2 separate regions of the Homo sapiens genome follow, and region 1 is linked to region 2. Evidence: fine-mapped expression QTL. A gene starts in region 2. The other region holds a variant in brackets. All regions are shown on one strand. Distances are between the middles of the regions.

What was found. PIP is the estimated chance that this variant, and not a neighbour inherited with it, causes the effect.
Region 1: its variant is fine-mapped to the expression of LINC01250 in thyroid (GTEx, PIP above 0.99).

What each region holds. Positions count from the first base shown.
Region 1 is chr2:3,103,513-3,108,889 of GRCh38, reverse strand. All of the region lies in intron 3 of LINC01250 (long intergenic non-protein coding RNA 1250), which reads left to right. Among named protein-coding and RNA genes, the nearest start is that of LINC01250, 20 kb to the left of the region's middle. RefSeq lists enhancers at 1-195, 3,663-4,370. The variant A/G (reference allele first, on the strand shown) is at 3,264.
Region 2 is chr2:3,123,220-3,128,596 of GRCh38, reverse strand. LINC01250 (long intergenic non-protein coding RNA 1250) reads left to right here and starts at 2,571. Exons shown (of 7, transcript NR_110228.1): 1 at 2,571-2,770; 2 at 2,942-3,035; 3 at 3,159-3,302. RefSeq lists a silencer at 1,026-1,190.

The DNA of each region.
Region 1 (5,377 bases), 20 kb after region 2:
GTGGACAGTCCTGTGCCAGTGCCTGCCTGGAGAAGGCGAGGGCAGTGGGACTGCGACAGGGTCTCTGAGAGGATGGAGGAGCAGCGTGGAGCCGGGCGCCATGGCCCTAAACGCTGGTGGTGCTGGCTCGGGAGGAATGAGACCTTGGCACCATGCAGCCACATTCCTGTTGGAGCCATGCTAGCGATTTGGAGAAGAATCCATGTGTGTAACTGAATAGCTGAGTTGGAAGCAGATGATTGAGGGTCTTATCAGGAGTCTGGTGAAGCTGCCCTTGCCTTTCCTTCCACACTGAGCAGACCAGATCTTTCTGGGAGTTGATATGTTGAGAATAATACATGTAAACCCATTTTAAACCCATTTTTCAAGAGCAGGAAAAGGCGTAAGTCATACACTGTGAGGCCACCTGAAGAAGACACGTACGTGTAAATAAAATGCAAATAACGAATCCTGAGAGCTCCCCTGCAGGAACTGTGGGACCCCTGCTTCACAGCTGAGCCCCGAGGCTGCTGCAGGGCTGACCCCAGGGGCGGGTGAGGGATGCTGGCGAGTGGGGCTGTGGGGCCCTTTCGGGGTTCCTGCCCTCCGGGCCCCTCCTCGGTCTGGCCAGGGTCTCTGCTGGGACAGGCCTTGTCTGGACAATCATAGAATTCCCGAGACCCTCTGAGGTGGACAGGGCTTGGCAGACCTGGGTCTAGTGGCTGCTGCCCTGAGGCCTCCCGGGTCTCTTTGCAAGTGGAAGTGGAGCGGAGAGGGGTGGCGGGCCTGCTCTCCCTGAGGCTGCGCTGCTCTCTCCAGCCCTCCCTCTCCAGCATTCACTCACCCCCAGGCTTCCCCTTGTCTTGCCTCTGCTGTCTCTGCCTTTCCCCTCGATCTCCCTCTTTCCTTCTTCCCTTCTCTATCCATGGTCTGGTCTTTTCTTTCCCCGTCTTTTTTAAACTGAGGTGTAAATAAGTGAAGAGACTGTCTCTGAGATTCCAGTGCCCTATCTCTAGAGAGAAGACCCTCCTTCTGCCCGTCCTTTCACCCTCCTTCCGCCTGTCCTTTCAGCATCCAGCCACTTGGTGGGGGCGGCTTTTGCAAAGTGGGTCTGTCAGCGCCTCACCCCCGCCCCAGCGTAGCTCTCTAGGTGTGCAGGAGTCAAACACAGCCACGATAGGTAGGCAAATCCTCACGCGAGTTCACAGGAAAGGCCTTCCTTTTCTTGCATTGTGTAAGCTTTCAGCTGCCAAGAGTTGGATGTGCCGACGTTTTTTGATGGTACGCGCACTAGACACAGGCATGACACATCAAGTGGAATTCACAGCCAGGATTTTCCAGAGGGGGCTTATTACTGGTGGGTGCCTGTAAGGAGAGGTGGGATGGCTTCTCCGCAGCAAGACGTTCCGGATGAGTTCTTTAGTTTTCGTGAGGGGATATCGGCCGCCTCCCTCAGTGCCACTGCTAATAAAGGCATAGACTCCTGTTTTCATGAACAGCACAGAAACCTGCACCCCAGATTCTTCTCAGCAAACAGGGGGTACTCAGGGCACCCTAAAGGTGGATGGAAACCATCTCGGGTGGGGGGAGTGCCGAGCTGCCCACGACCTGCACCCCACGTTCTTCTCAGTGAGCAGAGGGTACTCAGGGCACCCTAAAGGCTGATGGAAACCATCTTCGGGTGGGGGGTGCTGAGCTGCCCACGACCTGCACCCCAGATTCTTCTCAGCAAGCAGGGAGTACTCAGGGCACCCTAAAGGTGGATGGAAACCATCTCGGTGGGGGGAGTGCCAAGCTGCCCACGACCTGCATCCCAGATTCTTCTCAGCGAGCAGGGGTACTCAGGGCACCCTAAAGGTGGATAGAAACCATCTCCAGGTGGGGGGTGCCGAGCTGCCCCCCACCTGCGCATCCAGGTCAGCACTTCCTGATGCAGAAGGTAAAGCATCCTTCATGATCTCAAAAACCTTCAGTACCCCGACCCCAAAGCCCCACTTATTGCTGGCCACGTTTTAACATTTGTTGATTGAGAATAAAGCATAAAGGAAACTAAAACCATCGTGCATTTATTTATAGTTTTAAAATGGATTTTTATTTTATAAAATGCAGCAGCCTCTGTGCATACCTGGAAACAGCCCAGTATTGAGTCTATAGCGAATTCTTAGGATCACATGGATTCGTGGGACCCTCGCGATAGCTCCATGGTTTCCCAGGATGTGACTATCCATGAATTCTGTAGGGTGGAATCTGTTGCTCTGGATCTTTGAAATGTCTCCCTAAACTCGGCCTTGTAGGAGGATAGGCCATTACATTCAGTGGCAAAAACTGCAATTACTTTTGCACCAACCTAATATATACATTTTCTCTCTATCTTTCCTTCCGTACAGAAAACTTCCCCTGCTGAATTGCACTCTGTGCGATCCATGGGTCCCAAGGGGCCACAGGAGGTGCCCTGGAACCTGCCTCCAGGGAGGTTCTAGAGGACATTATTTATCACGCGGCTCAGGCGGGGCTCCTGGCTGCCAGCAATAGAAGCCTGTTCTGGCTGAGCTCAGGTGAAAAGGAGCTTCTGCAGGGATATTGGGTGGGCTTTGGTCTCCAGCTCTGACAGAGTCCTCGGTCCTGGACTCACCCTCCCACATTAAACAACCATAAAATTGGACAACATTTATGAGGCAACTGATTTCAGGTGTGAACAACAGGTAGTGCAAGACTCCAAGGAAGAGGAGGAGGTGTGCGCCCCATAGTTCCCTGGCTCTCAGCCCGGTTACAGCTTCCCTGTGGCACCACAAGCGGAAGTCCAAGGGAGCCTGGTGGGGTCCCACCGACCCAAAGATGGTCCCACTGTCCTCGGTCCCACTGAGCCGAGGCCGCAAAGATCGGAATTTGGGGAATGTCAAAGTGCTAACTGCCAGTGCCTGGGAATGTGACCTGACGTGGAACAGGGTCTTTGCAGATGCAATTCAATTGAGGTCGCCTGAATTTAGGGCAGCCCTAAATCAATGACTGGTGTCCTTAGAAGAGAAGGGAGAGGGGGGTTTGGCACAGAGACGCAGGGATGGAGGCAGAGATTGGAGTGGTACATCTACAAGGCAAGGAGAGTCAAGGGTTGCCAAGTTAAAGGAGAGGTGTGTGTGCATAGTCTCTCTCAGAGCCTCTGGGAAGAACCAGCCAGGCCAACCCCTTGGTTTTGGACTTCTGGCCTCCAGGACGGTGAGAGAGAAATATCCATCATTTTAGCTGCCAAGTTTGTGGCACTTTGTTACACTAGCCCTGGGACACGA[A/G]TGCACTTCATCGCCAGGCGTGGTTTTAGATGTTATCTGCTTGGATTTGGTTCTGCTATCAAGTTACTGTTTTTATTGGCGATTTGAAGAGATTGTAAAAAACTATGTGACCACTGCTGCTACCTTCCCAGCACTGATTCGTTAGTTTCTGCTGTTGTTCACGTTGGATCCTTCTCCTTCAGGCCTTCTGCCCTTCTGTCTACTGTGGGGAAAAGAAAGAGAGATCAGATTGTTACTGTGTCTCTGTAGAAAGAAGTAGACATAGGAGACTCCATTTTGTTCTGTACTAAGAGAAATTCTTCTGCCTTGAAATGCTGTTAATCTGTAACCCCACCCCCAACCCCCTGCTCCCTGAAACATGTGCTGTGTCCACTCAGGGTTAAATGGATTAAGGGCGGTGCAAGATGTGCTTTGTTAAACAGATGCTTGAAGGCAGCAGGCTCGTTAAGAGTCATCACCACTCCCTAATCTCAAGTACCCAGGGACACAAACACTGCGGAAGGCCGCAGGGTCCTCTGCCTAGGAAAGCCAGGTATTGTCCAAGGTTTCTCCCCATGTGATAGCCTGAGATATGGCCTCAGCCCGACACTCGTAAAGGGTCTGTGCTGAGGAGGATTAGTAAAAGAGGAAGGGACGCCTCTTTGCAGTTGAGACAAGAGGAAGGCATCTGTCTCCTGCTCGTCCCTGGGCAATGGAATGTCTCCGTGTAAAACCCGATTGTATATTCCATCTACTGAGATAGGGGAAAACCGCCTTAGGGCTGGAGATGTGACAGGCGGGCAGCAATACTGCTCTTTAAGGCATTGAGATGTTTATGTGTATGCATATCTAAAGCACAGCACTTAATTCTTTACCTTGTTCATGATGCAGAGACCTTTGTTCACGTGTTCACCTGCTGACCTTCTCTCCACTATTATCCTATGATCCTGCCACATCCCCCTCTCCGAGAAACACCCAATAATGATCAATAGATACTAAGGGAACTCAGAGGCCAGCGTGGATCGTGGATCCTCCGTATGCTGAACACCGGTCCCCTGGGTCCCCTTTTTCTTTCTCTGTACTTTGTCTCTGTGTCTCTTTCTTTTCCAAGTCTCTCGTTCCACCTAACGAGAAACACCCACAGGTGTGGAGGGGCAACCCACCCCTTCTGCCTACCCTGGACTGCTGTCTCTCAGCCCGCTCCGTGGCTGTCACCCTGGGAATGAGTCTGCCACGGTCCCGGGAATCCTCTCCCTGCTCTGGGACCCTGGGTTTTCTGCGTCCTGTACTCTCTGTCTTTTGTTCATTCATTTGTTTTTTGTTTATGCTCTTTTTTGAGTCCAGTCTAAAACACTGTGTTTTTAGTCCTTGCACACCTGGAAATGGCTTTATTCTACGCAACGTGATCATTTTGCTGGCTGAAGAAATCAAAAGCTGAAGCGAGGCTCCATGGTTTTCGAGAAGCTGGTGCTGCTGAAATCCACACGCCACTCTCTTTCTTTTCTTTGCATGTGACCTGCTTTTCCTTTCTGGAAGTCTTTAAGATCTTTTATTTATTTATTTTGGTTGTTTAAAATTTTATACACAGTGGCGTGCATCCTCCCTCATTTACTCCGATGGGTACTCAGTGGGGCTTTTCAGGTGAGAAAAAATGTCTTGTATTGTTTCTTTGATCATCTCCTTCCATCCATCCTCTTTTTTGATGTTTCTATTAGTTAGATGTTGGACAGCCTGTGCTAATCCTCTACATCTTTAACATTTTCTCTGTTATTCTTCATCTCTAGCAGATTTCTTTTACTTTATTTTCCAATTTGTCCTTTGAATTTCATCTATCATCATTTTAATTTTTAAAGAACTTTCTTTTTCTTATTCTCTTGTATTCCTTAAAAAAAAAAAAGCAAATTCAATAGTTCCCTAGTCTGAGAGCATTTCTTGTATATAAATCTTTCTTCAATTTTTCTGTGTTTGTTTTATCATGTGTTTCCTCCTGATTCTGTTTCCCCTTTTGTTCTCTATTTCATGCTTGGCTGTCTGCTCATATTTAACAGCGAGGAACTAAACATTTATTGGAAGCTCCCTGTGCATGGCAGAGTTTGCCAACTGGTTGACCTCAGAGTCGGGTTATGGGGTAGTGT
Region 2 (5,377 bases):
ACCCCAACTGAAACATCAACTTCGAGCAGGGTCTCATCTGCCTTGGTCATGTGATACGGTTTGGCTGTGTCCCCACCCGAATCTCAACTTGAATTGTATCTCCCAGAATTCCCACATGTTGTGGGAGGGACCCAGGGAGAGGTTATTTAACAAAATATATTAATTCACATATAAATTAATATGATTTGTGAAACCTCTTTCTAACATCTCAAATATATTTACTAATGAGAAAAATCTTTTTTTAAATTGTCAAAACCTGTGTCTCAACTTTTGGCTCAAAAACTGCAGTCCTGCTGTCTGCAGTGGCTTTGTGAGTTGCCTTAGGGAAGAACCAAGCAGGGAGGACAGACCCTGCAGACCAGGCTGGGGTGAGGGTGTGGCTCTTGTCTCCTGGCCCCCACATGTTCAAGAAGAAGGTGCTGGGGCCTCATCTTGGCCCTTTGCCTCTTGCCTCTGCACTGTTCCCTTAGGATGGATCTGGGACAGAGCTAATGGAGGCTCTTCTGGCGTGTCCTGAGGACTTTGGCTCAATCTTGGTGAGTTTAGCTCCTCTGAGTTCTTCTTAATTCTCCTTGGGGGCCAGTAGTTGCAGATGGCTAGGAGAAGGTGGGGCAGCTCTGGTGCTCTCTGCACTGAGGAAGCACTCCTGCTGCCCTGTGCGTGCTGCTGTGGATGCTGAGTGCAGTCTGGACAGGGTTGCCAGCCAGGGCTCCAGGTGTTCCCTTCCTGTACGTGTGATCAGCTCCTCCACCACAGGAAATGCTCCCAGTCACCCACCTCCCACCCTCCACCCTCCACCCTCCACCCTCCGTCCTCCACCCTCCACTGCAGTTCTTCCCAGCTTCATTTGCGGCTGCCCAGGGAATAATTCCAGGGATATAGTAATGTCTGGTGTCTGGACGGTCTCCATGGGATTAAAAAAGTAGCTGGTTTGCATTTCGGAGACAAAACAACCCTGCAGCACGGAGTCAAACACTGCTTCTTCGCGGGAGATGCGTCCTGTCAGGTGAACACCAGCAAATCAAAACCCAATTCAGCAGAGGGATGATTTTCGCCTTCCGGAAGATGAAATCACGAAAGCTCAGAGACGGCGCGCACTCCGTAGAAAGCCCAAATCAAATTATTCTGTGGCCTGTGTAGATTTCCTGTGCCTGGCACCCAGCTGCCTGCATACAGGAAGTGCTCATTACAGGCACAGCAGCAGATGTCAGCCCCAAAGTGTCCATTTTACTAGCTGGTGTTTCAGCATCTGTCACGGGGATCAACAAAGCATGACAGCCGCCAATGTGCCTCCGTGTGGACTTTTGTGATGCTGTATTTTCTCTTGAGAGGGGCCCCTGATTCTGGACAGAATGCACTGGGTAAGTCTTTACGACTTCGTAGCCCCAGGCTCCTGGCCCAGGCAGGATGAGGAAAGGATGCTGCCCCAGGATCGCCCGAAACGTTTGGTTTGTTTTGTGTGGCTGGACGTGGCCGAGTCCCTGCGGCCCCAGCAGCTCTCAGGCTTCCCTGCCCGGCTGCTGCCTCAGGGCTGCGCTGAGCTCAGGCCAGAGCAGCTTCCAGGGCCTCATTTCAGTTGTTTTTATCATCTATGAGTTATCCAGTGTTTCCAATAAATCACATTCCAGGGCAAGCAGTGCAGAGATGTGGGCCCTTATTTCCTCTCCCAGGCTGATAACAATGAACAAGTGATTTCCTGTCCAAAGCTGGGTACTCCAGCGAAATAAGAAGTCCTATCTCCAGGAAAATAACACTGTCTCTCTCTCAGCCCCAACTCCAGCACACCAAGCATGGACCGTCTCTGGCCCTTGGGCAAGCTGGAGCAGCCTTTCATTTCCTCTCTGCCTATTCATGCACGCCCCACCCATCTCCCAGTCCAGGCTGTGATCCTCACCACCCAGCAAGCAGGCGAGGCAGGGCTAGGAACCCATTTTACAGGTGAGAAAAGTGAGTTTGCCAGACATTAAGTGACATGGCCAGGGTCTCACCGGCAGTAAGTGGACAGGGCCAGGCCAGGTCGTCTCTGTGTTCCTAGGAGACCCTGTGATGACCACTCAGCCCCCTCTGCTGCTGCTGGTTGAGGTGAGAGGTGCTTATAACTCAGAGATCTTTGTCATTTGGGTTCTAAAAGCAAACTCCACCTTGTGACGCGCACCCCAATCCGCCAGCAGCTTCAGAAGCAGCATCTACCTGTAAGCTGCGCGGTCTCCCTCTCCCATCTCAACAACCTTCCTGTGTGCGGCTTCCCTCTCGGATCTGCACAACCCCCTTGTTGAGAAGAGGCAGCAGGAGCAGTGTGGGCGGTCATTGCCCTATTTTACAGATGAAGAGTCAGGGCATTTAAACAATTTGGTATGGATCTATACATAAGAGGGTGGAAGAGGCCAGAGGAGACCTAGACCTACTTATCTAAAACCCAGTCACTGATGCTGGGACACAGAACTGTCCTTCCTCGTCTGCCCCCTCCCTGCTCACGCTGTATTGGTGGAGACCTTGTCTCTCTTGGTGCCGTGGGAACAGCGCTGGGCCCACCCATCAAGGGCTCCCTGGAAGCGTGCTGAGCGTGTGGCATGAGGAAAGAGTCACCAGCCACCCACGTTGCCTCCACACTGGGTGTCATTGTGACCTTAGCAGACAACAGGGTCCTCCCGAGGAGAGAACACAGTAGGCACACTGGATGTGGGGAGAGGGTCCAAAAGCCCCAAGCAGGGGGCAGGTCTGGGCAGAGGAGAAGGCGCTGTGTCTGTGGTGGCACTGGATGCCTCGGAAGGTGTGTGGCCTCCCTCCATGGCTGCCCAGGACCCAGGGTGCTGACCGTCTCTCCTGGAGTATGGCAGGGCCCAGGGGGCTGAGGCAGGGCCCCTTTTGGCAAATTCTTCACTCATAGAGGTTTCATGTCTTTCTCTGTAAAATGAGGATGCGAACATAGTTTGTCTTTCAGGATAGCTGTGATTAGAACACGTGTGTAAAGCGCCTGTCATGGCAGCGTCCTTCTCCTGGCGGCAAGTCTTCACTTGCAAAACAAGTCCTTTTAGGTACAGCAAAAACTGCTGCACGCAAGGGGGTGGAGGGGAACGATGGAAGGCGGTGTTGAAGGGTGGGGTGGGGAGTGTGCAGAGGCACTGGAAACAAACTTTTCCAATTTCTGTTATGCCTAGGAACAGGCTTTGTGACAGCTGCTGCTATCCAGTCATCTTTAGAGCCCTGGAGTCCTCGCCAAGGGCACGGGCTCCCTTTGTGGTCCTGGAATAATGGGGCCTGCCTGGCACTCTCAGATTGCGTGGGGATCCGCTGGACTTAGGGTAAGGCTTTTGTGGGATAAACTGCAGTGGCGCTAGATCAATTGTCAAGGTTTGGCCGACTCATTTGAGAGACTGGGTTCACGCCGTGCCATTTCTTCTTCCCGTTGCAAGGCTCTGCAAGGAATGTGGTGTCAGAATTTTAGCGCCTCGTATTTCCCACAAATGATAGCAGTAAGCTAACCGCGCGATAGAGACAGCGCTTCATGTTGTGCAATTTGATTTGCTGAGATTCCCAGCTCTTGCGTCTTTGAAACGGCGGCTCTGTGCAGAGATGAGATGGTGTTCCCAGCTCATCGCAGCGTGCGTGGTAATCTTATGTTCAGGCACACACTCTTTTTGGAGAAAACATACATTCTTTAGTATTCATGTGGATTTCACAGCAGTAATGAGGAAACTCTATTCCTTAGAGAATGTTTTTAATGTTAAAAAAAAAAGGATGGCATTCTTGGGAGGCATTTTAGTTTTCCCGTTTTTATTTTCTGACGGTTTTCATAGACTAAAGACTGAGAATGCAGGAATACCTTATCTTATTCCAGAAATTATTTTTACCCAGACCTGTTGATTTTCCCCTTACATTTGTATAGATGTTACACTCTATCATATTTAGCTTAAACATAGACTGAGCTCTCCTGGCTGTGTTACGAGGGCAACTGACTCTAGGAATTGCTGCTTTTCTTGATTTCCCAGAGCTTTGTGTTTCCCCATCCCCGAATCTCCCCACACCCCGTCATATTCAAAACACGTCACTGCTGCAAGATCACGTGTTTTATCTGCTCTCTATTATTATTTAGTAATTCTATTTTGTAGCTGAACCTGGTATTCCATCAGGGTGTGTAGTGCGAGCATGAATGGAGCCGATTTATTGTCCTCCCAATTAACTAATTTTTCTAACCCAACTTAGTTGTTTTCTTTAATACATTCTTCTATAGAACTTAATATGTGCAGGCCTTCTTTTTAGGGCTTTTCATCTATTAACTTATATAATCCTCACAACCACCCAGTAAGAGAGATATTATTATCTTTATTTGACTGGCGAAGAAATGTAAAGCAAAGCCAAGTTAAGGAACTTGCTCAGGGTCACACAGCTGCTCGATGATGGAAACAGGGCTCCCTCTGGACGGCCTGGCTGTGAGACCTGGGCTCTGGGTCTCTGCTCGGCCTCCCGCAGATGTGAGTGCCAAACAGTGTTAAGGTTGATCTTCCTATCTGCAGCTTCCACACCTGCAATTCAATCACCATAGATGGAAAATATTCAGGAAAAAAAAAACAGCACAACAAAAACTAATACAAATAAAACCGATACACTCTAATGACAACTATTGACGTGGGATTTGCGTTGTATTAGCTATTACAGGTAATCTGGAGATGACTTGAAGTATATGAGAGGATGTGTGTAGACTTTATCCAAATACAGCACCGTTTTATATCAGGACTTGAGCATTCTCAGATTTTGGTACCTGCAGGGAGTCCTGAAACCAGTCCCTCGTGGGGATCCAGGGATGACTGTCTAGGCTGACTGCTGGTATATACTGGGCATGTTTCTGGGTCTCTGTTCTAGTCTAGTGATCACTGTGTGTATTTTTGCCCTAGTACTTCACCCATTTACTTATTGCCACTTTATTTCAGCCTGAAGTATCCTATACGCATCCATGTTATTATTTTTAAAAAATTTCCTTGCTTTTTTTTGCTTTTCATTTTTCTAGACAACATTTATAATCAATTTTGCTTACAAAATTCTATTGGAAGTTTGAGTTGCATCAAATTCATAAATTAGTTTGGCAAAAACGTACATCTTCTTAATATTTCTTTTTAGATATGGAATATACTGTATTTCTCCATTTGTTCAAATATTTTCTATGGTGCTCTCTTGGGCTTATGGATTTAATTATTTGAGCCTGACAGACTTCTTGTAAGATTAATTTCCAGGTACTCAGTTTTAAAATTGTGAATAGAATTCTTTTCCCATTGTTTCTCTAACTGTTAATGCTGATATGTAGGAAAACGACTGCTTTTTATGTTCCTATTAAAATTTTTTTAAAAATTAGTATAATTTTACATTATTTTTCTTAGGTAAG